5 linked regions of the Homo sapiens genome follow. The protein of the gene in region 1 purifies or fractionates together with the protein of each later gene. This does not show direct contact. Each region holds a gene or a part of one and is shown in the gene's direction. Other genes may lie near its edges. The genes, in order: ITIH3, TXNDC15, METAP1, SLC35F2 and NADK2.

Evidence for each region.
Region 2: the proteins of ITIH3 (region 1) and TXNDC15 purify together in Homo sapiens (affinity purification with mass spectrometry; one large-scale study listed by BioGRID and IntAct). This does not show direct contact.
Region 3: the proteins of ITIH3 (region 1) and METAP1 purify together in Homo sapiens (affinity purification with mass spectrometry; one large-scale study listed by BioGRID and IntAct). This does not show direct contact.
Region 4: the proteins of ITIH3 (region 1) and SLC35F2 fractionate together in Homo sapiens (co-fractionation; one large-scale study listed by BioGRID). This does not show direct contact.
Region 5: the proteins of ITIH3 (region 1) and NADK2 fractionate together in Homo sapiens (co-fractionation; one large-scale study listed by BioGRID). This does not show direct contact.

What each region holds. Positions count from the first base shown.
Region 1 is NC_000003.12:52,803,034-52,808,031, forward strand, and holds part of ITIH3 (inter-alpha-trypsin inhibitor heavy chain H3 isoform 4 preproprotein), read left to right. Parts: intron 1-821; coding exon 822-976; intron 977-1,692; coding exon 1,693-1,701; intron 1,702-2,228; coding exon of another isoform or gene 2,229-2,339; intron 2,340-2,774; coding exon 2,775-2,807; intron 2,808-3,069; coding exon 3,070-3,105; intron 3,106-3,259; coding exon 3,260-3,373; intron 3,374-3,867; coding exon 3,868-4,072; intron 4,073-4,552; exon of another isoform or gene 4,553-4,689; coding exon of another isoform or gene 4,690-4,713; coding exon 4,714-4,883; exon of another isoform or gene 4,884-4,916; intron 4,917-4,998. UniProt on the Homo sapiens protein: May act as a carrier of hyaluronan in serum or as a binding protein between hyaluronan and other matrix protein, including those on cell surfaces in tissues to regulate the localization, synthesis and degradation of hyaluronan which are essential to cells undergoing biological processes.
Region 2 is NC_000005.10:134,894,008-134,900,254, forward strand, and holds part of TXNDC15 (thioredoxin domain-containing protein 15 isoform 1 precursor), read left to right. Parts: intron 1-2,286; coding exon 2,287-2,417; intron 2,418-5,481; coding exon 5,482-5,678; 3' UTR 5,679-6,247. UniProt on the Homo sapiens protein: Acts as a positive regulator of ciliary hedgehog signaling. Involved in ciliogenesis.
Region 3 is NC_000004.12:99,057,377-99,063,623, forward strand, and holds the end of METAP1 (methionine aminopeptidase 1), read left to right. Parts: intron 1-376; coding exon 377-442; intron 443-3,777; coding exon 3,778-3,941; 3' UTR 3,942-5,433; downstream 5,434-6,247. UniProt on the Homo sapiens protein: Cotranslationally removes the N-terminal methionine from nascent proteins. The N-terminal methionine is often cleaved when the second residue in the primary sequence is small and uncharged (Met-Ala-, Cys, Gly, Pro, Ser, Thr, or Val).
Region 4 is NC_000011.10:107,855,147-107,861,929, reverse strand, and holds the start of SLC35F2 (solute carrier family 35 member F2), read left to right. Parts: upstream 1-3,142; 5' UTR 3,143-3,162; coding exon 3,163-3,272; intron 3,273-3,350; exon of another isoform or gene 3,351-3,429; intron 3,430-6,783.
Region 5 is NC_000005.10:36,191,215-36,196,380, reverse strand, and holds the end of NADK2 (NAD kinase 2, mitochondrial), read left to right. Parts: intron 1-1,098; coding exon 1,099-1,237; 3' UTR 1,238-3,681; coding exon of another isoform or gene 3,682-3,760; 3' UTR 3,761-3,792; downstream 3,793-5,166. UniProt on the Homo sapiens protein: Mitochondrial NAD(+) kinase that phosphorylates NAD(+) to yield NADP(+). Can use both ATP or inorganic polyphosphate as the phosphoryl donor.

The sequences.
Region 1 (4,998 bases):
GGGACTTCAGCACCCTGCTGCCCACACTGGGCATGGCCCAGGGGTGGTGAGGCTGAGTGGAACTGAAGGCCGGGATCCCAGCCCTCAGTGCCCAGAGGGCAGAGCTGAGCCCACTGAGAGGGTCAGTGTTGGTGTGGGTGGGATTAGACTGTGAAGCCGTTAGTACACAATCTAGCACATGCTGAGTGCTCTGCACATGGACACCATTGCGAGTGGCTGTTGTAGCCCCTTATTTTATTTATTTATTTATTTATTTATTTATTTATTTATTTATTTTATTTTATTATTATTATTTTTTTTTTTGAGACGGAGTCTCGCTCTGTCGCCCAGGCTGGAGTGCAGTGGCGGGATCTCGGCTCACTGCAAGCTCCGCCTCCCGGGTTCACGCCATTCTCCTGCCTCAGCCTCCCAAGTAGCTGGAATTACAGGCATGCACCACCATGCCTGGCTAATTTTTGTATTTTTAGTAGAGATGGGGTTTCACCATGTTGGCCAGGCTGATCTCGAACTCCTGACCTCAGGTGATTCACCCGCCTTGGCCTCCCAAAGTGCTGGGATTACAGGCGTGAGCCACCATGCCCGGCCGGTCCTTACGTTTTATAGGTGGGGAAACCAAGGTCCAGCAAGGAAACAGGGCTTGTTCACATGCCCCAGGGAGTTGTGAGCCAGTCTTCTCTGAGCCCAACTGGGCTGTACCCTGGGGGACCCCACAATGGGGAAGGTGGAGTGGGGATCCCCAGCTGTGTCCACTGCTCCAGTGCAGGGGAAGTGGGCAGGGTGCTGCTCTCCAGGCTGTCCTCCTGACTGGCCCCTCCTCACAGCAAGAACGCCCATGGCGAGGAGAAGGAGAACCTCACGGCCCGGGCCCTGGACCTGTCCCTCAAGTATCACTTTGTGACTCCACTGACCTCAATGGTGGTGACCAAGCCTGAGGACAACGAGGATGAGAGGGCCATTGCCGACAAGCCTGGGGAAGGTGGGGATAGGGATGGAGGCCGGAACCCGGAGGCCTCCTGTGCTGGGCACCCTACCTGGGTGTCCAGTGGAGGAGTGGGCCAGGCTGGGGAGACCCAGACCTGCTGAAGTAGGGCATCTGAAGGAAAACTGGCCACGGGATGGGGAAAGTGGGGTGGAGCGTGAAGCAGTCAGCATGGACAGTGGGGTGTGGGGTGAATAGGAGCCTCTGCACCTCTAAAGGGAAGTGAGTAAAGGGGGCACACTGCCCATGGGGCATTTCAAGGAAAAGGACTGAGGCTGCAGCATGGAAGGGCTTAGTTAGACAAGAAGAAGCACTTCCAACATGAAAGGCCTGGAGCAGGCTATCAGGCACCTGGAGATTGTTAGGGGAAGAGTCCCTGAGAGCTGGAGGCTGGGACCCCCTCAACCAGACCCCAGATTGCCCTACTCAACAGGGGGTCCCAAATGCCCACTGCAACTAGGTACAGGGTCTGTGTGTGGTGGTGGAGGATTGGCATTGGGAGACATGGGAGGCAAAGAGCTGGGCCTGGCCAGGCCAGGCCTCTGGCTTCCAAGAACTCCTAGTTCCAGGGGACACCCAGTGGGGGAAGAGCTGGCTGCTGGGAGGCCCACAGCCTAGGGCTGGTCGGCCAAGCAGCCAGCTCTGGTCCCTGCTCACAAGTGCCCTATGGCTTCTAATGCATTTCTCTTCTTCCTCCCTTGCTGCACCTGCAGATGCAGAAGGTAAGCCTTTAGCCAGCCACCGGGTTGGGCATTATGGAAGGGAGACAAGAGAGAACTGAGGAGGCCTTTCCAAGCAAGATAGGACCCCCAGCCATGGGGGCACACTTGGGACACCTGGGCTCAGGCCCAGCCCTATTGCCAAATCATGAACGTGCCCCTCTCTGAGCCTGAGGATCCCTGTGAGTTAATTGGGGGTGGCTTCCCTTGCCCAGGGAGACACAATCAGTATGACAGTATCTATGACCTGCAAAAATGAGCAATTTAGCATGTCAGTCATTTATACTTCATTAGTCCCATAGCAACCCTCCAAGAGGGCCCTTTTATGATCCCCATTTTACAATGGGGAAATTGAGGCACGGGGGGTTAATTTGCTCAGTCTGTTTGCTCACAGACTCAGCAGATGGCCAAGCTGGTACTTAGGCCAAGGCAGTCTGGCCCCAATGCCCATGCTGGGAATTGCTGGGGATCACAGTCCTCTGTGCCTCTCTCACCACAAAACTGGAACCTCACAAACTCCCTGCCACTAGGCAGGGCCTCCCCAGCCCCTACTGGCCTGCCCCACCTCCATTTGGACTGGCACATTTGGACTGGGCCATCACATTCCCCTCAGAACAGCCCTGATAAATGTACCGGTGCATGTGAGTACATATATGCATGTGCACGCATATGTGTGCGCCTGTGTGCACGTGTGGGTGGGTGTTTACTATCAAGAAGCAACAGACAGCCGTGAGCCTCACTCACCCCAACTAGGGGGTGGGAAGCCCAGGGGTGGGGCAGATGTTTGCTGTGAGCATTACTCAAGAGAGAGAAGATGACTTAATGGCTTGCATTTCAGCCACATCAAAAAGCCCTGCGCCAACGTTAAAATCACATCCCATTGCCACCAGCCCCATAAAGGGCTTCCCTGGACGTGCCCGATTTCCAAAGCCTAATCTTTGTAGTCACATCTCCACCTCTATCTGCCAGTGTTGGGGCCCCTCTGGGGCCCAGCAGCGCTAAGACAGGAGGAAGGCACGGGGCTGGGGGAGAAGGAACCCCTAGACCCTGCTCACCACTGCCCTTCGGCTTTTCAGCCACACCGGTGAGCCCCGCCATGTCCTACCTGAGTGAGTACATGCTGGCAGCTGCCACTCCTCCCACTGCTTAGAGCCTGCCCCTGCCACATGTCCCTCCACCGTGGCTACTCACTCAGCTCTCCGGGATGGGCAGATGGACAATGTGCCCTGAGGAGATTGCGGGGTGGGAGGGCAATGGCATTAGCGAGCGGGAAGGGGAGGGGAGGGGCATAAGCTGAACTCCTATGGGGGTCGTCGGGCGCCTCCCAGGGCCACTTGCTTAGCTCAGCCCTCTCTCCCTTTGTATCTGCAGCCAGCTACCAGCCTCCTCAAAACCCCTACTACTATGGTGAGTCCCTGGCTGCTCCTCGGGAAGGCTCAGGGGCCTGGGCACGTGCTCCTGCCTGTCTCGGAGTCGAGCCCATGGAGGCCAGAAGGCTGGGGGAGGCCCCAGGTATGATGAGAGGCCCCGGGAGTCAGCTCCTTCTCTAATGTGTCACCAGTGGACGGGGATCCCCACTTCATCATCCAAATTCCGGAGAAAGACGATGCCCTCTGCTTCAACATCGATGAAGCCCCAGGCACAGTGCTGCGCCTTATTCAGGATGCAGTCACAGGTGAGGCTTGTGGGCTAGGGCCGGGGCCAGGGGGCTCTTCCTGGGAGGGCTTGGGTCCCCCGAGGTAGGCACAGGGAACAGGTTCTCACTCTGCCCAGTAAGGCATCATCTTCACATGCAAAGAAACCCCTGGGGGTGGGGAGTGCCCAGGGCCACAGGCTTGCTCAGCCCCACATGCCAGTGCTATTGGGAGATGATTAGCGTGAATGGACCACCTGGGCCTAGGGTAGGACCCAGCCTGTGTCTGGGGAATAGCTTTTCTCTGAACAACACTCCCTGGCCCAGGCAAGTGGCAGACCCATAAGGTCCCAGCATGACCCAAACCTAGAGTGTCTAGGAACCAACAGGCTTGGGCTCTGAAGTCCTGGTCTCTCTTGTGGCCCCCGCTCTGCTGCCCCTCAGCCAGTCTGGTTGAAGAGGAAGGCACACCCCTAAAGGCAATCTGGACTCAGAAGTTCTCGCTGGTCTCTCTCCCTGCCCCATCCCTCTGGCAGGCCTCACAGTTAATGGGCAGATCACTGGCGACAAGAGAGGCAGCCCTGACTCCAAGACCAGAAAGACTTACTTTGGAAAACTGGGCATCGCCAATGCTCAGATGGACTTCCAGGTGGAGGTGACAACGGAGAAGATCACCCTGTGGAACAGGGCCGTGCCGAGCACTTTCAGCTGGCTGGACACAGTCACAGTCACGCAGGATGGGTAAGCTCCCCTACAAGGTCTCCAAGGTGGACTACAGGGTGAGAGTCTAAGGAGGCTCTTGAGGGATTTAGAAAAATCCCAGGACAGGAGATCCATGGGGGTCACAGGAAAGATCAGAGACCCCAGAATCCAGTCTCCTGTCACAGGGGAGGGTGACCATAGTGGCCCCCAACCAAACCCTGGGGCCCTATCAGAGCCAGAATTGGTAGCTGCACAGTTCAGCTGGTTGGGTGAAGGCATTAGGTGATAATGGCCCCCATTTGCCTCTTCTGTGGCTGCTCTTGTCTTCTTAGCTCTCCTGTCTTCAGATCCCCCAGAGCCTCCCACTGAGGCTCAGAGAAGGTGTGGAGCCTGCCCAATGTCACTCAGGAAGTCAGTGGCTTAGCTGAGGCTGGACCACAGGCCTCCAGATTCATAGGCCAGCCCTCTCTTTCCCACTTATAGACACTCAAGGATCCACTCACGGGAGGGGAGACAGTGTGCATGAGGCATCCTCTTTCCAACGCCCCTGAGATAGTTTCTGGAGTCTGTGGGCCCTCGGGTGCCATGTACAGGGGAGGCCCCACCAAAACGCCCTTGAGTCAGATGCCCAGTGTCACGGCCACTGGGCCCCACAGCCACTTTCTGGCTTCCTCTCGTAGGCTGTCCATGATGATCAACAGGAAGAACATGGTGGTCTCCTTTGGAGATGGGGTTACCTTCGTGGTCGTCCTACACCAGGTGTGGAAGAAACATCCTGTCCACCGTGACTTTCTAGGCTTCTACGTGGTGGACAGTCACCGGATGTCAGCACAGACGCATGGGCTGCTGGGTACGAAGTGTTCAGACTGCAGGCTGTTCAGGCCTGAGAGCAGCATGGGAAAGACATACACAAGGCCTTCCTAGGCACCCTGTACCCAGCTCACAACACCCCATTCAGCCTTTGC
Region 2 (6,247 bases), on another chromosome or scaffold:
GCAGGTTAAATCCCCATCCCAGGCAGCCCAATTCCCAGCACCCCTGTTTTGTGTCTACTCAGGATTTCTTCCCTTCCTTTTCTTTTTCTTTCCTTCTTTTCCCTTTCCCTCTTTCCTTCTTTCTTTCCTGCGTACTTATTCTTGCAGTCATGTTCTGTAGTAGGCACTCGATCAAGTCATGAATTAATTTAGCTCTTTAACATGACATTTATCTTTGTTTTATATTTCTCGTGTATCATTCACTGGGTTTTTGTCCAGGCTGGCCTTGAACTCCTGGGCTCAAGCGATCGTCCTGACTTAACCTCCTGAGTAGCAGGACTACAGGCATGCGCCACCATGCCAGGCTGGTCATTTTTTTTTTCTTTTTTTTTTTTTTTTGAGGTGGAATCTTGCTCTGTCACCCAGGCTGGAGTGCAATGGTGTGATCTAGGCTCACTGCAACCTCTGCCTCCCAGGTTCAAGTGATTCTCCTGCCTCAGCCTCCTGAGTAGCTGGGATTACAAGCACCTGCCACCATGCCGGCTAATTTTGTATTTTTAAACGGGGTTTCACCGTTTGTTGGCCAGGCTGGTCTCGAACTCCTGACCTTGTGATCTACCAGCCTCGGCCTCCCAAAGTGCTGGGATTACAGGTGTGAGCCACTTTTTGTCTTTTTTAAATGTTTAGTAAAGTAAGTTACAGAGAACTTTGTTGAGATGGTATATGTTTCTCCTAAGTGCTGCGATTGTGCCTGAGTTATAAACTGTTCTTCTCTTCCAAATCAGATGCTCCTTAGTAGGTCAGCCTCAACAAGGAGGTTGTGTGTAAATAAATCTAGAACATCTGAAAAATGGTCAATTGGTGGTAAAATGAAGTTGAGTAAACTTCCATTACTCTGTACTTGAGGCCAGGTGCAGTGGCTCACACCTGTAATCCCATCACTTTGAGAGGCCAAGGTAGAAGGATTGCTTGAGCCCAAGAGTTTGAGACCAGCCTGGACAACATGGCAGAACTCCATCTCTATAAAAAAAAATACAAAAAATTGACTGAGGATGGTGGCACATACCTGTGGTACCCCAGCTACTTGGGAGGCTGAGGTGGGAAGATTGCCTGAACCAGGGGAGGTCAAGGTCACAGTGAGCCGTGATCCTGTCACTGCACTCCAGCCTGGGCTACAGAGTGAGACCCTGTCTCAAAAAAAAAAAAATTGTATTCCACTGATTTTCATTGTGGGAATATAACTGCCAATGTTTACCTGAAACTTTTATGAAGAAAGAAATGGCTCAACAAATTAGTAATTTTCATATAGGCTTCTGGGTTATATCTAAGTGACTGGGCCCAAGGGAGCAGACTGATTGGAAGGACAGATCACGTCAGTGTCCAGCTTTGGTGGGGCCTCCACTGCCCCCAGGCATACTCAGTGCTCTTTGGTTCTGGGTCTCACACTGTCCCTCCTGCCTCTCCCGCAACTCCCTCCCTAACCTGCTTTCTTCTTTCCTTCCTTCAGCTCCATGTTGTATCTTAATTATGGAGACTAAGGCTCTTGCTGTTATTATATGGGCTGGGACATGTTTGCTTCTTATGTTAATATTTAAGTTACAGCATGTGTACAAAAGAAAAAAATCCTGGTTATACACTATTACTATTTTACTAATGCGGAAAATTGAGGCTTAGCAAGGTTAAATAATCTGCCCAGAGTTCACATTGGTTCAGTGGCAGAACTGAGGCTTCAACCCAGAGTGTTTTGACTTGGGAGCTTATCACCACTAGTCTGTATTATGTAAAGGTGAAATAAGCCCGCACAGTTATATTCCTTCTAAACAAGTCATCCTGCCCTAATTGTGAACATCCTGGTGTGTTTGTTAGATCATATACTCCCTTGTGCCAGCTTACCAAACCAATTGCCTACTGTAAGTTGATCTTTTTTGAGGGACAGGGATGGGCATTCTGAAGAGTTGGAAATTTTTTCTGTCAAATAAGTTGACACAGTGTGCTTTGTCCATGAATTAGAGTTTTCTGGTCTGGTTTGTTTAGACAGGAACTTAACTAGTGGAATAATTGTGCCATTGGTAGATCCATATTATAATTGAAAGCAACTCAGATTGCAGAAAAGGAGTGCCCCCCAGCCATGACCCATAAGCAAAGAGGTCAGAAACAAATGAAAAAGCCAAAAGTTTCAAGTATCAGAAATCTCCGTAGGTCACACGCAACTTCCTCATTTATTTCTGTCTATTCTGAGATGGTAATTGTATGAGAAAGCCCTCTATTAATAATAAATTCAGGTTTTTTGACTTCTTTCTCTTGTAGCCTTTCTACCAGGTTTGGCACCGTAGCTGTTCCTAATATTTTATTATTTCAAGGAGCTAAACCAATGGCCAGATTTAATCATACAGATCGAACACTGGAAACACTGAAAATCTTCATTTTTAATCAGACAGGTATGTGGAAGTAATGTGCTGAGGAAGAAGATATTCTATTGCTGGGGGTCTGTGCCTTCTGTGGGTTCTGATCTGCTATAATCCTTAAGTGAAGGATTCAAGACTGACTTTGAGTTGTAAAACTTCTCTTCTAATGAACTGTTATGATCCTGTTAAATACTTCCCAATCAGTATGAAGTTTAACATGAATAGGTAATTTTAATTATTATAGATACTTTTTTTTTCCCTTTTTTTTTTTTTTTTGAGTCTTGCTCTGTCGCCCAGGCTGGGGTGCAGTGGTGCGATCTTGGCTCACTGCAACCTCCACCTCCCGGGTTCACGCCATTCTCCTGCCTCAGCCTCCCGAGTAGCTGGGACTACAGGCGCCCGCCACCATACCCGGCTAATTTTTTGTATTTTTAATAGAGACGGGGTTTCACCGTGTTAGCCAGGATGGTCTCGATCTCCTGACCTCGTGATCCACCCACCTCGGCCTCCCAAAGTGCTGGGATTACAGGCGTGAGCCACCGCACCCAGCCTTTTTTTCCTTTTTTTTGAGGCAGAGTCTCACTCTGTTGCCCAGGCTGGAGTGCAGTGGCATGATCTCAGTTCACTTCAGCCTCCGCCTCCTAGGTTCAAGTGATTTGCGTGCCTCAGCCTCCAGAGTAGTTGGGATTACAGGCGTGTGCCCAGCTAATTTTTGTATTTTTAGTAGAGACAGGGTTTCGCCTTATTGGCCAGGCTGGTCTCGATCTCCTGGCCTCAAGTGATCCACCCGCCTCGGCCTCCCAAAGTGCTGGGATTTTACAGGTGTGAGCCACTGTGCCCGGTCTATTATAGATACTTTATTGTTTGATTGACTGAGACGGAGTCTCGCTCTGTCACCCAGACTGGAGTGCAATGGCATAATCTCAGTTCACTGCAACCTCTGCCTCCTGGGTTAAAACGATTCTCCTGCCTCAGCCTTTCTAGTAGCTGGGATTATAGGTGCGCACCACCACACCTGGCTAATTTTTGTATTTTTTAGTAGAGACAGGGTTTCGCCCTGTTGGCCAGGCTGGTCTTGCACTCCTAACCTCAAGTGATCTGCCTGCCTTGGCCTCCCAGAGTGCTCAGATTACAGGTGTGAGCCACCGTGCCTGGCCTATTATAGATACTTTAAAACAAGTGTTACTGAAATATAATTCACATACCATACACTTTACTTATAACTTTTAACGCACATTTTTCACTTAATATTTACACAAAGATATGCATAAGTCATGAGTGTACAGGGTGATGAATTTTCACAAAGTGAACACCCTGGGTAACCACTCTGATCAAGAAACAGAGCACTGGCTTATGCCTGTAAACCCAGGAGTTTGGGAAGCCTGTGCGGGTGGATCTCTTGAGGCCAGGAGTTCGAGACCAGCCTGGCCAACATGGCGAAACCCTGTCTCTACTAAAAATACAAAAACTAGCTGGGGATGGTGGTGGGTGCTTGTAGTCGCAGCTACTCGGGAGGCTGAGGCATGAAAATTGCTTGAGCCCAGGAGGCAGAGGCTGCAGTGAGCTGAGATCACAGTACTGCATTCCAGCCTGGTTGACAGAGTGAGACTCCGTCTCAAAAAAAAAAGAAAAAAAAAAAGAGAAACAGAACATTACCAGCCTCCCTTCAGCACCACTGCTCCTGCCTTCCCCAAAGATAAAGATAACCACAGTCTTGACTCCTAATATCATAGACTGTGTTACTTGTTTTGGACTTCATATTAATGGAGACATGCAGGATGTTTTATTTTGTGTCTGTTTTTTTCATCCAACAGTATGCTTGTGAGATGCACCTGCATTGTCATGTATGGTTATGTTTTGTTCTTTTTCTTTGCTGCTACTGTTCCATTTATTAATCCATTTGTAGATGCTATCTTAGTTCCTTAATATTTGCCAAAACATATGGCCTTATTTTTTATTGTTTGTAAAACATTGTAAAGCATTGTAAATTGAAAAAATTACCTCCATTGGAAAAGTTCATTCCTCTAAAGCCTCACTGTCTCAATTGTGAGCATCCCACTCTTCCCAAAGTATGCTCACTGGAAATAAATAAAAATTATAACACACATTGCATATATATTAAATTGCATATAATCATTTTAGCTAACACTAAAGAAAAAAGAGCTGAGTTGGCTGATAGGAGTAAAAGTAGGATATTACAAGGTGGTTAGCTAGTCCAAGTCTTGTCATGGATCCCTGATTGTCATTTCGATTGATGTGTGGAGAGGGAGCCATTTTATTCAGTGCTCTAAGAAAACCTAGAACACAAATCTGGGAGTCAGAGCATCTTTGGTAATCCCTGTTTCCGTTGGTGGCTTGTTGTTATAACAGTTCTTTCAGTAAATTATTAAAAGCATTTTGGGGCTGGGTGCGGTGGCTCACACCTGTGATCCCAACACTTTGGGAGGCTGAGGTGGGCAGATCAACTGAGGTCTGGAGTTCGAGACCAGCCTGGCCAACATGGTGAAACCTCGTCTCTACTAAAAATACAAAAAAATTAGCCAGGCATGGCGGTGTGTGTCTGTAATCCCAGCTACTTGGGAGGGTGAGGCAAGAGAATCGCTCGAACCCAGGAGGCGGAGGTTGCAGTGAGCTGAGATCGCACCACTGCACTCCAGCCTGGGAGACAGAGCAGGACTTCATCACAGAAAAAAAAAAAAGCATTTCGAATTTAGCATTACTTAACCTGTGAAAACATTCTGTAGACACCTGAGAGGAGTTTTACTAGTTACTTACTGAACTTTGGTCTCAAAAGACACCAAAATACAACTCTTATAAACACATTGACTAAGAAACTTCTGATGAGTTCACAGAAATTCTAGTGTTTTAGTTGTGAACAGCTGAATGGGTTCCTGATCCTTTGATGCAGTGGGGAGAAAGGCAACTTACAAATTACACTGATAGGCAAGTGAAATCCATCCCATATATTTATATATATACTAGTGGCAATGCTTATTTTAGGACTGCATGTCATTTTGCATACCATACATAATACTTGAGAAAAATCTGTGGTGGGTGCTTTTTCTGCCTGATTTGAAACCAGTGATTTTTCTTTCAGGTATAGAAGCCAAGAAGAATGTGGTGGTAACTCAAGCCGACCAAATAGGCCCTCTTCCCAGCACTTTGATAAAAAGTGTGGACTGGTTGCTTGTATTTTCCTTATTCTTTTTAATTAGTTTTATTATGTATGCTACCATTCGAACTGAGAGTATTCGGTGGCTAATTCCAGGACAAGAGCAGGAACATGTGGAGTAGTGATGGTCTGAAAGAAGTTGGAAAGAGGAACTTCAATCCTTCGTTTCAGAAATTAGTGCTACAGTTTCATACATTTTCTCCAGTGACGTGTTGACTTGAAACTTCAGGCAGATTAAAAGAATCATTTGTTGAACAACTGAATGTATAAAAAAATTATAAACTGGTGTTTTAACTAGTATTGCAATAAGCAAATGCAAAAATATTCAATAGATGCACTATTCTTGTTTTTACTGCATGAACGTAATCCAGTATTTGGAAAGTAATCCAGTTTGAAATGTGAAGATGTATTCCGGCAGAATAGTGAGTAGAATGACATGCTTACTATACAGAAGGCAAAAATAGGACTCTCAGGTAATAGTTTAAGGAAACCCTTGATTCCTTATATATGTTTAAGAAGGTTAGTTTTCTGTTTCTTTGCAGTTTTTCTTCTAGAGTCCATAGCAGGAAAGTATGTAACCAGAATTGGTTAGTGTGACCCCCTCAAGTAGCAAGTGATGGAAAATAAGAGTCAAATACCTTGATGTTTGTGATCTCTAACTCAAAAAATTTGAAGTGTTTTAAGTTGTTTC
Region 3 (6,247 bases), on another chromosome or scaffold:
ATGAGTAGTGGAACTCTTGGTTCTGTGATTGCAATTCTAATCATGAGGTAATAGAAATCAAGGCACTTTTCTTTTATTCTTTATTTGCCACTTTTCTTTTTATAGAAGTGATACTCATCTCTGAAATACAGCCTACAAATACCTCTGTTTTCCTAGAGAACACATAAGCGTAATTGAAATGTGCCTAGGACAATACGTGCACCATATTAGATGGCTGCCAGTATAATACCTGTTTGTTGAACTTTAAGAAAGGGAATCAGGGTAATTAATTTAACAATCACTGATGGGAATTTGAGTTATGTACTCTTTCTAGTTAGCTGTTCAACAGTACACTGTTGGTTTTGCTACCTTTTGAGATTTTTTTCTTTGATTTCAGAAAATAAAGCAGTTGGAGTGATGAAGTCGGGCCATGTATTTACAATTGAGCCAATGATTTGTGAAGGTGAGAAAAAAGGATGCCATGATATTTTTCAATTGAATTTATATGTATTTTAGGTAATTCATCATGTCAGTGGTCTTTTCTACCTGCTTGCTTTTTGCTTCCTACTCACTCCCTGTCCCACCTCAAACTTGATTCAGTATCGTGAAGAACTGAAAATTGTGAGGGTTGGCAAGAACGGCATGGGTTCTGCGTGGTAGTCTTCTGTCAGGAGATGCTGAAATGCTTGAATTCTGGTCCCTTTTCATAAAGATCATGTCAAAGGGTGCATTGTAATAATGAGGTGCCCAGGTCAAGTCTGTGCGGACGTTCTTGCTTGATGTAGGAGAGGGAAGAGGAGGGAACAGAGCAGAGCATTGACGAGCCACCCAGTTCGAGGCAGACATGATTATATGATTTAATTCTTCACAATTTATAAGGTAGGTGTTACCCCATTATAGAAACTAGGAAACTGGTCCTTGAAGAGGGTGGGTAGCTTGCCTGTAACTTAGCTTGTTACTTGGCAGAATTTGTCAGACTCAGCTCATGAGCTGTTCTGACCCTTCATGGTCTGTACTCATGTCATCACGTGGCATCATATAGCTATTGTGGGGAAAGCACACCAAGGACACTTGGAAAGCACACTTGGCTCTGGCAGCCTCCCCACTGTTGTCATCTCTTCCAGACAGGCTTGTAGCAGTGATAGGAGACTGGGAGTCACAATTAGGGCTCCTCACCGAGATTTTCAGAGTGATTCTGGTAATGGAGCTTTCTGGTTAGGGGATGCAAAGTGAGGCAGTAGCAGTAGAGCTTGTGTGTCCTGAGCCCTGTTTTAAAGGATACTCCCTCTCTTGATCCTTCCAGTCTTTTTATAACCCAGTCTTGGGAGTGACTTCTATATTGTCTTTCTTAGAAGTGATTCACTGAATCCAGCCCGCACTCAAGGGGAGCAGGAGCTCACACAAGGGCCTGCATGCCAGGAGGCTGGGGATCACTGAAGTCACTTTAGAGGCTGCCTTCTAAAGCTGGTTCCTTATTGCGTTTTCTGTAAAATGAAAATTAGAATCTCTATCTTGCCAACACCCAGGGCTGCTAGACTGAGATGATTTATGTTATGTTATATACTTTAAAAGACTGCACAAATGTGCAGTAAAGTTTTTGTCATCCTCTTATAATAAGGATAAAGTTCTGATCACGTGCAACCAGTTGTAAAGATGGTAAGTATTTAGCAGTGAAAAGAAAGATAGTGGGAGGAAATTGTCATTTTGGCTACGTATTTCCATTAACTAGCACCTGGTTGGTGAGCCATGATGTAGTGTTTTCAGTAAGCAAATAACTTTCTATACAGCCAGCACAGGTAATTAATCATCAAATTATAGCAGATATACTTGAAGTGTAACTCAGCTAGGTTAAATCCCTGGACTAGAAAGTCTCAAATCTGCAGGAGAATTTCCTCAGAATAGCCAAATAAGTTTGACTTGACATTACTAAAAATCCTGTTTTATCAGATCACAATAAAATTACAGTAGTAATGTTTTAAATTTGTGTAAAGGCCATTTGTGTAAAGGCCATTACATTGAAAAACATCGATGTACTCATCTTTAGTTGCTTGATGAGGCATGAGTTAACTTTTTTAGGCCGCCTCGTATTTTCTTTTTAGCCTGGGATTTAATATTGCAAAAGTAGTTTACTTCACTACAGAGTTTATGTTCTGGGATTTGTCTGTCTGAGGCAGTGAGTCCTAGAGGTAATATGTTTCACCTAAAGATTACTCAAAATGAAGAAAGTATTGATTTTTTTTTAACATCTAATTTTGAAAGAAGAAAGCTCGCAAATACATCTTTTACAGTAGTATCTAGAATTGCCTTTCTCATTCCACCTCTGCTTCACATTCTCTTGGGCCTTTGCTTTCTGCTTTCCCTCATTATGACCCCTTCACCCCCTTTCCCTCCTTTCTCTGAGTTTTCTTTCATGGCCTCCCAGATTCACTGTCCCTTTGCTTCCCTTCTCTGGTTTCAACTCCTGTCCAGACCATTCTGCTTCATATTTTTCTTATGCTCTCACACCAGTCTTTCTTTTGCCCCTCTTTCTGATTCCAGGGGTATAGTTCACAAAAATTTCACTGTATAATCTGTTCTCACCATCTGTTTGTGTGCCTACCATTTTGAAATTATATCAGGAATTGAATGCTGTAATAAAACTGTAAACATTTACATGATTTCCTTCACAATATATGCTGAGTATAGTTTTGTCAGATGCCCAAGTTATACTAGGAAAGAGCTAAATTCATTCAAGTTTTTTTTCTGATTTTTTAATTGTAAAATACACATCTCATTTTTAAATGTACAGTTCAATATTATTAAATACATTCATAACGTTGTGCACCCATTACCACCATCCATCTCCAAAAGTCTTTTCATCTTGTAAAACTGAAACTCAACCCATTAAACATTCCCTTCCTATTGCTCACTACTCCCAGACCTTGGCACCCACTGTTCTGCTTTCTATCTCCATGATTTTGACTACTGTACTCTACCTCATAGAAGTGGAATCATTAAGCACATGCTTTTTTTTTTTTTTTTTTTTTGAGACGGAGTCTTGGTCTGTCGCCCAGGCTGGAATGCAGTGGCGCGATCTCAGCTCACTGCAAGCTCTGCCTCCCAGGTTCATGCCATTCTTCTGACTCAGCTTCCCGAGTAGCTGGGACTACAGGCGCCCAACACCATGCCCGGGTGATTTTTTGTATTTTTAGTAGAGATGGGGTTTCACTGTGTTAGCTAGGATGGTCTCAATCTCCTGACCTTGTGATCTGCCCGCCTCGGCCTCCCAAAGTGCTGGGATTACAGGCGTGTGCCACCGCGCCTGGCCAAGCATATGCTTTTTTATGACTGGCTTATTTCACTTAGCATTATGTTCTCAAGGTTCATCTGTGTTGTAGCATATTGCAGAATGTCCTTTTTAAAAAATTTCCTGTTTTAAAATGGACAATTATTGTACATATTCATAGGGTACATAGTGATGCTTTGATACATATAATGATACATATAATTAATTAAGGTTGTTACTCAAAGTTGTGGTGATTGGTATCAATATGTTGTTAAAATGAAATCCAGCGCCTTTATTTTGGAAATTCCATCTTGATTTGATATTTGGGATATATAAAAAATGTGGTTGTAATACATCTGATGAAATTTAAACATCAAACATACTGAAGACCAAAATGAAGTTGGAAAGGCATTAGCTAAAACAATTGGCATGTAAATAAGGATCTTAGTAGTGAATTTTTTCCTTGGCTTTCTTCTTGATAGAGTTCATTTAGAAAACTGAGTGAACTAAGAAATTGTTTTTGTTTGTTGAAGGCGGATGGCAGGATGAAACCTGGCCAGATGGTTGGACTGCGGTGACAAGAGACGGAAAGCGGTCTGCTCAGTTTGAGCACACCCTCCTGGTCACAGACACTGGCTGTGAAATCCTAACCCGGCGACTTGACAGTGCACGGCCTCACTTCATGTCTCAATTTTAATTTCTCCCAAGATGGCACATCTCAGTACCTTCTTACTGTGCTATGCATTTTATTGAGAGTACAGAAAGGAAGAGGAACCTTTTTTTAATCACTTGTTTTGTTTTGACTATAGATAAGAAAGGACTACAGCATTTGATGTGTGTCCTCAAGAACTTGTCTTGGGTCTGAAAAAGCTGAGAAGAATAAAGGAAACATTGCTCAACTCTTCAGCCCCCTCCCCCTGCACACCTGTTTTCTCATTTGCCCTTTGAGCACTTTTACTTAAACTTGCTTGTAGTTGCTTTTATCACTGCCGCAAAACAGCCATCAAGAGCCATCTGCTTTCCAGGTGAACATTGGAAATGAGAATCTTTGAAACTTAGCAATATGTGTTGCACCAGATTTTTTAAATTATATATATGGAAATATATATGTATACATTTTAAGTTCTGTATACATAATTACCAAACACTATGTGACCTGGAGTTTGTGTTGTTTCTGCTCTGACAGGTTTATATGTTCTTACAAATGGATCCATAGTTTGCAGTGATTTAATTCCTGGTTGGGATTTGGCCTCCCCTCTCCCCCATGCTAATTATTTACCCTTGTAATTGTGCATAGGGAAGCACTCACCCAATGAGACTTTCTCCAATGTGGACTCTGTGTGTCAGTGAATGAATGTAGTAAAATTCACTTTGGAAGGTTATCAGGCTTTTAAAAATCTAGTTTATGGCAAAAATAGCCATTTTCCAAGTGGTGGCTGACTGTTGCAGGGAATGAGAATTTCATAATACACTGCTATTTCAGACCTCTGTTTGGTCAGAAATGGAAAAGAAAAAGCCCCCTTTCTTCCCTTTTCTGTTTTACTTCAAGGGCATACCTTGGAGGTGCTCAGAGAAGCGTGAAGTTTGCACTATGGTGGAGGATGGGGAAAGAGTTCTAAAGTGTCTCCAGCTGTGAACCCAGGAGGTCAAGTGGGCTATTAAAATCTAACGTTGAGTAAATGTGATAGTGATGAGAAAGGAATTTTGTGTACTGTAACCTTGCAGTAGAGATGCAGCTGTCCTTCGTGTGTGGAAACACACCTCTCCTTTACATAGTTGGGAACCTCATTAGAAATGACCTCAGCTGCCCCATATCTACGTTCCTTTCAGCAGTTGTCCAAGTAGGAGTGTATCCAGTGAAGACATATCAAATCACAAAGTCATTGTCATTAGAGTGTACTTGATTACTGGGCATCCTTGTAATATAATTTCATACCACTGACACATTATACTTGTAAGAGAACATCTTTCCCAGAGTGCCTCAGACCTTATTGCTTTAAAATATAATAATGTTTTCATTACTTTTATTATTTGAATGATTTAGTAAAGTTGACTGAATCTGGTATAGACTTTGGGAGTATGTGTGTGAAGTTTTTATCAAACTGTAATATTTGTGAATGGAATGCCTTGCAATATGAATGTTAATATAATGTGTAAAGGGAGATTAAAAAGTTTGAATGATTATCCTACCATGTAGTCATTAACTTTGCTGCATTTCTTTGGGATTTCAGAGGGAAATGGTGGGAATGGGGAGGCTGTTTGATAATCTAAAATAAATTCATGACCATTTGAGTAGAAATGTTTTTTCAGGTGTAATGGCTGTACATAAACTCAGTAGAGTGCCAGCAGCATTTGAGATGCAACCATATTTTTGAGAGCTTTTAAGACAGAATGCTGAATATTAGGGGAGCATTTTATGTACTGATTGTGGAATTAACAATGTGGGCTTATTCAGTGTCTGTCATTAGAATATAAGCTGAAGGAAGAAAGATCTTGGTGTGATAGTTTTTTGGTTAAAAGATAAAACACCACACTGGTGATAATGCTTTTCTTAGTTTGGGAGATTTTAAAACAATATGGACTCTAGTCTAATTGCATATATCTAATTACAAATGTTCATTGGATTTAGGTGACAAAACACCTAGTTTCATCATTCTGCCACCTTTTTACAAAACAAGTCAGAGCATGGTGTGCGAGCCTGTAGCATTAGCTACTCTTGAGACTGAGATGGGGGGATCGCTTGAGCCCAGGAGTTCAAGGTTACAGTGAGCTATGATTGTGCCACTACACTCCAGCCTGGGTGAGAGAGAGAGACCTCATCTCAAAAAAAAAAAAAAAAAAAAAAAAAAAATCAAAGTATTAACTTCTTTTTTTACATTAACTTTTAGAATAATTTTTTCCCCCTGCCAGTCTTCCAACTCCTTTGGAATTATAACTTGGAAGAAGGGAAACATGAACTTCATTTTATGTCTTTTGTTGATAAAAAGGATTAACCAACACCTT
Region 4 (6,783 bases), on another chromosome or scaffold:
ATTTCATGTATTTATACAAAGGCATACATTTGACATAACAGGGACTCTATTGGCGGGCGTGGTGGCTCACACCTGTAATCCTGGCACTTTGGGAGGCCGAGGCAGGTGAATCACGAGGTCAGGAGATCGAGACCAACCTGGCCAACATGGTGAACTCCTGTCTCTACTAAAAATACAAGAATTAGCCGGGCATGGGCACATGCCTGTAGTCCCATCTACTTGGGGGGCTGAGGCAGGAGAATTGCTTGAACCAGGGAGTTGGAGGTTGCAGTGAGCTGAGATCGCACCACTGTATTCCAGCCTGACAAAGAGAGACTCCGTCTGAAAAAAAAAATAAAAGCGGGGGGACTCTATTATACGTGCCGGAGTTTTTTTTTGGGGGGTGTGTGTGTGTGTCTGTGTGTGTGTTTTAAAAGACTGTCTCACTATGTAGCCCCAGGCTGGTCTGAAACTCCTGAGCTCAAACAATCCTCCTGCCTCAGCCTCCTGAAGTGTTGGGATTACAGGTGTGAGCTACTGTGCCTGGCCCCCCACCCTCTTTTAAAGTTACTGGTGTTGACGTGTATCTTCTATTTTTCTTCATACTCACATAATCAAACATAGTAGTCCTCCCTTATGTTTCAAGACCCCCGGTGGGTGTCTGAAACTGCAGAGAGTATTTAGCCCTATACAGTATATACTTTTTTCCTACACATACCTATAATAAAATTTAATTTATAAAATTGGCACAGTAAGAAATTAACAACTCATAATAAAATAGAACAATTATAACAATATACTGTAATAAAAGTTATGTGAATGTGGTCTCTCTCTCAAAATATCTTACTATACTCTAGTCACCTATTTTCAGAGGGTAATTGGCTGTGGTAACTAAAACCGTGGAAATCAAAACCTCAGGTAAGGAGGTGACTACTGTATATATTGCAAATAAAAAATCAAATTTGGTTAAGGAGAGACTTTATTTGTAGGGATTATTGCAAATGGGGATGGGTGGGGACTGTGGGGAAGGGTTCCTGCAGTAGGAGGGGGCCTATTCCCTACTGGTGGGAAGTGGAATGAAAAGGTGGCTCTCCACTGGATAATAGATTAGAGAATGTTTCACCCTGAGGCCAACTTCTCAGGAGGGGCTATTAAGGAGGGGTTACCTGCGGCTCAGGGTCAGGGTGGGTGAAAGTTCAGAGGTATGAGGGAGGAAGAGAAATTCAACCAAAATCTTTGATTAAAAAAAAAAAGGTGGGAGGCTTCTTTTCTTTTCTCTTTCTTTCTTTCTCTCTTTCTCTCTTTCTTTCTTTTTTTTTTGAGACAGTCTTACTCTGTTGCCCAGGCTGAAGTGCAGTGGCACGATTTTGGCTCACTGCAACCTCTGCCTCCCGGGTTCAAGTGGTTCTCCTGCCTTAGCCTCCCAAGTAGCTGGGATTACAGGCACACACCAAAACGCCGGGCTAATTTTTGTAGTTTTAGTAGAGACGGGATTTCGCCATGTTGGTCAGGCTGGTCTCGAACTCCTGACCTCAGGAGTAATCCGCCCGCTTCGGTCTCCCAAAGCACTGGGATTACAGGCGTCAGCCACCGCGCCCGGCCTAGGAAGGTTTCTTAATTGTCATTACTTTCCAGGAGCACAGGGCTCAGGTAGAATTCAACGTTGTCAATATGCAGGGTTAAATGAGTTGTTTACTTTACAAAAGTGACATCTTAAATGTGCTTCTAATGTCCTCTTGTTTCATAATATGCTTGTATTATAATACTTAATTAGTCTCTACGGATGACCACGTTCTTAGTTTCAAAGGTTTTTTTGAGGTTCCTGCAGCTGCTAAACTTGGGGTTCCTGAAGTAATATTTCATTTTCGAAAGCTGTTTTTTTTCTTAGACTCCTCTTACAGAATTGCCAGCTCGTCTGCACAGCCTGTCTATTTGAACCTACGTTTATTTTGACCCACCCCAACCCCCAAAGCAGGTGGCCAGGAAAAAATAAAAGGTCCCAACACCTTTTCTTTTGTTTTCTGGATCTCCTCCTTTCCGGAAGCAGGGGGTCAGTGACAGGAACTTTTCGACCCCAGCTTAGTGTCTCTTAATCCCTCTTTAGCCCGTGGAAGCCTCGGAAGGCGTGGCCAGGGCAGGGCATCCAAGCCGAGCGCCGGGGGTTGGCACCGTCTCTCTCCCTGGCACGGCGGAGACAACTGAATACTGAAAGACAAAACCAACACACCGCGAGGAATGAGCCACGCCTCCATCCACGCCACAAAGGCACGTTTCCAAGATCTTTTTAGGATCTTACCCATGTTTTGCAGGGAAAAGCGACACAGACCTGAAGCGCCTTCAGGTTTTTTTTTTTTTTTTTTTTTTTTTTAAGACGACGTCTCCCTCTGTTGCCCAGGCTGGAGTGCAAAGGCGCGATCTTGGCTCACAACCGCCGCCTCCTGGGTTCAAGCGATTCTCCTGCCTCAGCCTCTCGAGTAGCTGGGACTACAGGCACCCGTCACCACGCCCGGCTAATTTTTGTATTTTTAGTAGAGACGGGGTTTCACCATATTTCCCAGTCTGGTCTCGAACTCCTGACCTCAGGTGATCCACCCGTCTCGGCCTCCCAAAGCGTTGGGATTACAGGTGTGAGCCAACGCGCCCTGCCAGCCTTCAGTTATTTTAATGAAGCGATTTTGTACAAATCAGCCAGAGGGAGGGAGAGTGGGAGGGAAGAGGAGGGGTCAGCCAGTCCTTCCAGTTAGGAGAGTCCCGGCTCACTCACTGCTTCTAACTCACTGCTCACTCACCGCTTCTTAGCTTAGGAATCACCTACAATAACCTCGTGTCACTGTATCTTGTGATTTCAAACAAGGAACCCTAAAAACCTGAAGGCACACTGGGTGCCGCTCAACAATAAGGCTCGGCTGCCAAGACGAAAAAAAAATTGCCCTTTCTCCTCCTGCCACCCTGGAGGTGCCAGGTTGTAATCTGCAAATGTATTGTCTGGCCCTTAGGGCTTGACAGTTAATGATTGGTCGCTGAAGGAGCCGAGCGGAGGAGCGAGAGGGACGCGAGCAAGCGAGCGAGGGAGGGAGCGCAGGGCCAGAGCGGAGCCCCAGCCGGCCGCACAGGCACCGCCTCCCGTCTTCCGGGACCCGGCACTTCGGGGGTTTTGGGCGCCGGAGACGCGCAAGGGCGCCGATGGAGGCAGACTCGCCAGCGGGCCCCGGCGCCCCAGAGCCCCTCGCGGAGGGAGCGGCGGCCGAGTTCTCCAGCCTGCTGCGCAGGATAAAAGGCAAACTCTTCACCTGGTGAGTGGAAGGGGCGTGCTGCAGCTCCGCTGGGGCGTGGGGGCGGCTGCGGGCCCTGCGCGCACGTGGACAAGGAGCACACTCTCTGAGGCCCCCAGCAGGGAGGCAGAGGTGGCGGCCGCACGGACTTCGGTTCGGGGCTCAACACGCACACCAGGTATGGTGCGCTTCACCTGGCGTCGGGAAGCACTTGGTGCGTCTCCCTCGGCTCCCGTTTCGAAATCGTGGCGATGTATTTTGGAGGATTTGGGGGGAAACCCACCCTGTGGCACTATTAGGTCGGTCCTCTGGGGCGTTCCGCGGTGGAGGGACGAGGTCCCCGGGGATGCTGTGAAGGAGGAGTGCCCACCTCGGGCTGGGCAGGTGGGTGAGCGCCACTTCCTGGCGCCGGCGCCCTCATTCCATCTGCTGCCGAGCCAGCCAGACTGGGCGCGGTGATTCAAGAGTTGACCGAAGTGAGAAATCCTGGTTAAGTTTTGTGCTGCTGCCGGGTGGGAGACCAGAGCCGGCTCTCTCTTCCTGGGCCTGAGCGAGGTGATATAGCCACCCCCAGGGCTGGGGTCCAGGGAAGCCTGTTTGTGGTATCACTATGCTCTGTGCGAAGTAGGGACAAATGTTTTTAAGGAGTGGGCAGCGACTCTAGAAAGCGTTTCTGTGGTTGCTGGAGGACTTGCACTCTGGAAATGAGAGAACCCAGGACCTAAATAGTGAAAGACATTTATTGGGCACTCGCTCTGTGTCAGGTACTGTGCATAACAATTTATATGGATAATATCAGCTAATCCTCACCACTTTAGGAGATGGTACTATTGTTATATCCACTTTGCCGCTGGAGAAACAAAGAAGGCTAAGCAATTTGCCCAAGGCCACAAGATGATCTTTAAGGGGTGATGCGTTCAAGCCGTAGTCTAAACAGCGTTGGCCACTGACAACTCATGAAACAGATATTTGATTTTTTTTTCATATTAACAAAGCGAATTTCCCTTTAACGATTGTGAAAGATAGTCCTGAAAAGCCATACCATTTTAAAAACGAGATCGATAAAGGTGTAAGCATTTTTTATCATATAAATAGTTTGAAATTGATGCATGTGTTTAAAGGGGAAAGTTGGCCGAAAACCACCTTGTAGCATCCAGTTGTGTATGTCCTGATACATTTGTTAAAAGTTCTCAGCTGGGAGGCAATTCAGTGTAATGGCTAAGGGCACTCACATTCTGGACTCAAATCCTGGCTGGGTGACCTTGGACAAGTCAGTTCTCTGTGCTCCAGTTCCCTCCCTTCCCTCCCTCTCTCCCTCTCTCCTTCCTTCCTTCCCTCTCTCTCCTTCCTTCCTTCCTTCCCTCTCTCCTTCCTTCGTTCCCTCTCTCCTTCCTTCCGTCCTTCCTTCCACAAGTCAGTTATCTGTACTCCAGTTCCCTCCCTCCCTCCCTCCCTCCTTCTTTGTTCCTTCCTTCCGTCCGTGTCCGTCCGTCTTGGACAAGTCACTTAACTTCTCTGTGCTCCAGTCTCCCTCCCTCCCTTCCTTCCTCCCTTCCTTCCTCCCTTCCTTCTGCTGGGTGACCTTGGACAAATCAGTTCTCTGTGCTCCAGTTCCCTCCCTCCGCCCCTCCCTTCCTTCCTGCCTTCCTTCCTTCCTGGACAAGTCACTTCTCTGTGCTTCAGTCTCCCTCCCTCCCTTCCTTCTTGGACAAGTCACTTAACTTCTCTGTGCTCCAGTCTCCTTCCCTCTTTTCCCTCCCTCCCTCCCTCCCTTCCTTCCTTCCCTCCCTCCCTTCCTTCCTTCCTGCCTTCCTTCCTTCCTTCCTGGACAAGTCACTTCTCTGTGCTCCGGTCTCCCTCTCTCCCTCCCTCCCTCCCTTCTTGGACAAGTCACTTAACTTCTCTGTGCTCCAGTCTCCCTCCCTCTTTTCTCTCCCTCCCTCCCTCCCTCCTGACGGAGTCTCATTCTGTCACCTTCCTTCCTGACAGAGTCTCATTCTGTCACCCAGGCCTGAGTGCAGAGGCTCTATCTCAGCTAACTGCAACCTCAACCTTTCGGGTTCAAGCGATTATCCTGCCTCAGCCTCCGAAGTAGCTGGGATTACAGATGTATACCACCACGCCAGGCTAATTTTTTCATGCTTTTAGTAGAGATGGGGTTTCCCCATGTTGACCAGGCTGGTCTTGAACTCCTGACCTCAAGTGATGCACCCACCTCCGCCTCCCAAAGTAGTGGGATTACAGGCGTGAGCCACCGCGCCCAGCCTGTGCTCCAGTTTTCTTATTTGTAAAATGGAGATAATAACAGTACCTACCTTGTAGTGCTGTTACAAGGTTACTATGCAGGAAAGGGCAGACAGAGCCTGGCTCCTTTCAGTGCTCTATATGGGTTAGTTGTCACCATTAGCTCTCTATTCTTGGGTGATGGGAACATTTGGTGATTGCTTCAGGAGATGCCAGTGGCCTTGAGGCTGGGGCAGATGATATGGCAAGATGTATGTTTAACAAGATGTGATAAGAATTAACAATGATTTTCTTTTCTTTTCTTCTTCTTCTTTTTTTTTTTTTTTTTTGAGACAGAGTTTTGCTCTTGTTGCCCAGGCTGGAGTGCAGCGGCACGATCATGGCTCACTGCAACCTCTGCCTCCCGGGTTCAAGTGATTCTCCTGCCTCAGCCTCCTGAGTAGCTAGGATTACAGGCGCCTGCCACCATGCCCGGCTAATTTTTAATACAGACAGGATTTCACCATGTTGGCCAGGCTGGTCTTGAGCTCCTGACCTCAGGTGATCCATCTACCTCAGCCTCCAAAAGTGCTGGGATTATAAGCGTAAGCCACCGTGCCTGGCCTGATTTTTTTTTTTCTCTCCTAATGTTCTGATACTTTTGGAATCCGGGTATGTTTTATAATCAGTCTAGTAGCCTCCTAAATATGAGATTTCTTTTGTCTATGAATGTCCTTTTTATGTATCTCTTTGAGGGCTTTTTCCTTTCTTGTGGAATAGCAGTTATGGGCATTTTTTTTTTTTAGACAGAGTTTCACTGTTGTTGCCCAGGCTGGAGTTCAATGGCGCGATCTCGGCTCACCGCAACCTCCGCCTCCCGGGTTCAAGCTCTTCTTCTACCTCAGCCTGCCAAGTAGCTGGGATTACAGGCATGCACCACCACACCTGGCTAATTTTGTATTTTTTGTAGAGATGGGGCTTCTCCATGTTGGTCAGGCTGTTCTCGAACTCCCAACCTCAGGTGATCCGCCCGCCTCGGCCTCCCAAAGTGCTGGGATTACAGGTGTGAGCCACACGCCTGGCCATGGACGAAGTTCTTTAACAGCAAAAATGGTGTCTTTTTCTTTTTTATATCTACCACAACCCTTAGCACATGAATGAATGAATGAGTGAATGACTGAGGGATGACAAAGGTTCACAAGTCTTCCTTTCCATTCTGCCTCCCTCCCTGAACTCTTCCCTTTATTGGTCTTTATTCCAAGGGTCTTGGGCTGAGCTTCTTGTTTGGTTGGCTGGGCTCTTTTGTTAA
Region 5 (5,166 bases), on another chromosome or scaffold:
ATTCATCTGGGAAATGCTAATTAAAACTACATAATACGCTACCATATACACCCACCAGAATGGCTAAAGTACCAATTGTTGGCAAGGAGGAACAACTACAACTTTCTATATATTCCTAAATTTCTGTTAGGAATATATAGCTTGGAAAATTGTTTGGCAATTACCTAGCAAACCTGCACATAGCATACACGGTGATCCAATAATTCCCCTTTGAAGTATACATCCAAAAGAAATGTAAGCACCAACAGAAATATGTGCGCAAAGACATTCAAGAATATTCATAGCAGCTCTACTCCCAATAGCCAAAAACCCAAATGTCCATGAATAGTAGAAGAGAGATATAAATTTTGGTGTTTTCATATAACAGAAGTGATTTCATACAGCATTAAAAATGAACACACTACTATTACTATTACATGTACTAATATGGCTGAATTTCACAAACATACTTTTGAGGAAAAGACAGGCACCACTGTGCATATTATATTCTTCCATTTATATAAAGCTCAAGAACAGACAAAGCTATTACTACTGCAGTGATAGAAATTAGGAAGGTGCGTATGCTTGAGGAGGGAGCAGGGATAGTGACTGGGAGAAGGCAGTGAGGGAGCTTCCAGCAAGCTGGGTAAGAGTTGATTCCTGAGTTGGGTGATCATAAGTGTGTTCACTGAACTGTACATTAATAATTTGGGTGTATACCTGTATACATAATTACATGTACCCAACTCTTCTGTATATGTGTTATACTTAAGTAAAAATTTTAAGTACAAATTTTACATGAAAATAGTTAACACTCTTATTCAATACTTAATATTTGTAATGTTAGTAATTCAGCATTTAATCATATGAAAACAGCCTGTGAGTTCAGTCAGGTCTGCACTTCTTTACTGCTAAATGCTTGAGCGAATGGTGCCATCCTGAACGTTTTGAGACCTTCATAATATACCCATATATTTACATAGTGACTAATTTTCTCATACCAGAGAACAACTTGATTTTTAAAATGGAGGCCAAATGATCTGCTAGGTTAAAATTCAGGATTAAAATAACCTATTAAGAAAACTATTACTATTTAATGAGATATTTCCTTCTGCCTAGGGTTTGTGTTCGTTCTCGTTGTTGGGATGCCTGTATGGTTGTGGATGGAGGAACTTCTTTTGAGTTTAATGATGGTGCAATTGCTTCGATGATGATCAATAAAGAAGATGAGCTTCGAACTGTGCTTCTTGAACAGTGAAGGATTTCCTCATGACAAATTTTGATTACTGGCGAGAATATTTTTACTTCAGAAACAGACTACCAGTCGTAAAGTGACATTTTTTGGTTATTGTTGAGACTGCTTGCCCGTGGGCTCAGAAGTGAGATTTGCATTATTCTTCTGTTGGATTCTGATAGAAAAAAAGACATTCACTGTATAAGAAAATGGATGGACTGAACCAATTAGAATTGATACCAGTGAAATTTTTATATTGCTTACAATTGGTAACCAAGAGTGCTGATACCTTTTTAAATTTAGAGGGGCAGGCTTAAATAAAGGACTAAATATTTAGGATTTGAAACTTAACTGTATAAGTGTGTTTTCCTTCCCTTTCCTCCTAATTGTGGGATTGTCAGAACTGAACACATATCATTTGATTAGTGCATATTTTTTATAGTACCTGAAAACCAAGATTTTGAAAAAATTTTCAAGACAGAGAATTTTGATAAATCCTGACATTGACCTAATTGACATAGGTAAATATGTTTGTATATGTGCTAATAATTTTCTAATTTCGGAACACGATGATGTTATGACTATTGATTTAAAAATTTCAAATAATAATTTTTGAAATTATAGATGAATGCTTTCATTTGAGTTTCATTCTGTAATTCAGCAGTTCTGGGTGAAATACAGATAGCAAAACAAATCATGATGCTGTTACAAATGTATTAGTTATCCAATAAGTGTTTTAAGTCAATTTTTTTAAAATGATATGAGTCTTACAGGTTTCTTCCATCTTTAAAATGCTCAAACATGGATTCAGGGACTAAAAGGATGAACTGATTAGACATTTTCTATTAGGAGTTTGGTAAAATATTGTAAAAATATCTTCACCTGTGTTAGGAGTATTATCAGAAAGAATGGATTCTTTAATAAATATGTAAAACACAGTAGTTTTGGAATTGCCTTCCTTAGTATTGTGGTTTTCACCTAGCTTATATTCCAAGATTTACAGAATAGCTTTTAGGATAAGATGTTAGGACTTTTTTTTTTTCCCCATGAGAATTCCTTTATTTTTGGAGGAAATTATTATCTAATTATTGATCTACTTATAAGTAATCCTAGAATTTTTGCCAAAAGATCCTGTCGTTGCATAATCAAACAGTTGGTATTCTCGTGCCGTTGTTCAAAGTCATGTGTTTCTTTCATTTGGTGCTGAAAATTTCTGTTCAATCATTGACAAATATTTATTGAACACCCACTCTGTGCCATGTAAAACTATGTCAGGTGCTGGATATGTTGATGAATGAAACAGACTCTATCCTTATACAATTTGAGTCTTGTGGGCTCAGAAGTAAATTCTGTGAAAGCTGGACGGATAGTCGAATTGAGTGCTCTTAGTTTTGCCAATATTTAACATGTTGTTCTTATCAATTTTTTAAAATAAATGTTAATGTACAAAGTTAATCTAGGTTTTGATGTATATCCAGAGAATCAATTTTTCTTAAAGTATCTGCGTAGACATTCATAGCAAAGAATTTATGACATATCAGATAGAAATACATTAAAATGTAGTGTTTTCCCAGAGATTGATCTGGCTTTTTTTTTTTGATATACATAAGATACCACTTTATAAAGAAGCTCCATACTATAGAACCTCCCCTAACAGGCTTAAAATACCTTCTTTTTTTTTTTTTTTTTTTTTGAGAACGGAGTCTTGCTTTGTCACCCAGGCTGGACTGCAGTGGCATGATCTCGGCTCTGCAACCTCCATCTCCCAGGTTCAAGCGATTCTCCTGCCTCAGCCTCCCAAGTAGCTGGGATTACAGGCAGGCACCACTATGCCTGGCTAATTTTTTGTATTTTTAGTAGATATGGGGATTCACCATGTTGGTCAGGCTGGTCTCGAACTCCTGACCTTGTGATCTGCCTGCCTCGGCCTCCCAGTATTGGGATTACAGGCATGAGCCACCATGCCCGGCCTTAAAATGCCTTCTTAAAGGAAAAATGCCAACTCCATCCTTAATCTCAAGGAAATCTGATTGTCCAAATAGATCTGTTAATATGTAACATATTAATAGGTAACTTGCTGTGTAAAATTATAAGCCATATTTTAAAAGGTTTTAAAAATACTTATTGTGCTCCATTTGTGATATAATTTCTAACATTTCTGCTCTGTGATGGGGGTTTATTTGTAAGAATAAGAGGCAAAGGAATGTTAGCATAGCAAAAATGTGTTTGAATGAGTTAACCTTTTAATCGCAACCCTATGTGAATAAAATTACTCCACTGTTACCTCTTCTTTTTAACATTTCTTATTTCCCTCTCAAGGGGTCATTATTTGAAAACTAGTTTTCACAAAATGTTATGTTTCAGAAGTGTTTCCCCACTGCTGTGTATTATTATTCTGTGCCCTGTTGACTTCATTCACTGTTAACATTTGACATAGAATGATTAGTTATTAAATCAGGGTGAAGTGCTTACCTGGTCAGTGTAGGCTCTTCAGATAATTTTGACTTAATATTTTTGATACTCCTTGTGCATTTACATTCATGGCCCCTGTACATTAAATCATATTACATGTTTTACTACATTGATTTCACTTTTTAATAAGCAGAAAGAGAGCCAGGTAACACATTTTTATTGTAAAATATCCACTTGAGTTGAAAAAGTTGTCAAATACAAGTTTAAGGATACGTTATATATTTTGCTTAGTTGTGAAAATAATGTACATTTAGAATTTAAATCACTTAAATTCATTCCATTGTACCAATATTATTTATGCATCCTTATACTTAAGAATAGCATCTACTAAGACAATTATGCAGAAAAGATCCCAGGGATAATGCAACACCTAAATATAATGGTGGGGGAGATAAGAGTAAATGTACTAATGAGTTGTCTAACTAAAGAATAGTTCAATTTTATTTTTTCAAAGGCATTTTATTCTTGACTTTAACATTAAAAGTACTCAAGGGATTGGGGCATAAGTCAGTGAGAAGGCTTATTAAGTTTTCTACATTAAGGTATGAAGAGTTTTTAAGTCTTACGGGCTTTAAGACTTTTTTTAAAGAAAATCACTGACTACATGAGCTAAAAGTAGAAAAGCATATTTTAAGTGTTAATCTGAATACCTTAAATATAGTGATTTTAATGCTCAAAATTACAATTTAGATATTCTGGTATTTAGAGAAATGTAAAAATACCGGCATTTTAGTATTTAGATTTGCTAAAACATAGTAACTCAAAGCAGTTACGTTTTGAGTTATCCATAATATTAGTATAGGCTTTTAGGGCTTTGACTTGTATCTTGAAGGGTTAGTCTCTTGGTGAAGAAAACTTTGATTTTCTGGGATATTTGGCTAGGTGGGGAGGAATAGTAAAGAAAGAGGAGGTTGTCATCTTGCTTGTTCCATGGTTAGGGTATGCAGTGACAAGAGGTTTCTTTCTAGTTTGCCCAGTCTCTAGACTACTTGCCTTTGTTTCCTCATAGGCTCTGCATCTTCTCCTGGGCTGTTGTATCCTGCACATTGTGGATGGTCAATAAATGTTGAAGTGTAATTGGGTTCACCAGGATAGGACACAAGCGCTTTATCCAGAAATAAAGTTTTGCACTTGGCCAGTGTCCCTCATGTCTCTGGAGCTTGTGGATAGGGTCTATTAGGAATCAAGAGCCCAAGAGCAGGTAAAGTGACAGCAGTGAAAATGAAACAGACAGGTATGTATCTGAATAGAAGAACAGGATATTACTTATCAAGTGTCTCCTGGCTAAAAAAAAAAAAAAAAAGAACTTGATGATACAAGCCTCTGGAGCACTGACACTATTGACATTTTGTCCAGACAATTCTTTGTTGTAGGGGGCTTTCCTGTTTTCGGATGGTTAGCAGCATCCTTAGCCTCTATTGCCTGTATGCCAATAGCACTTCTCTTGTGACCATCAAAAATGTCTTCAGATGTTACCAAGT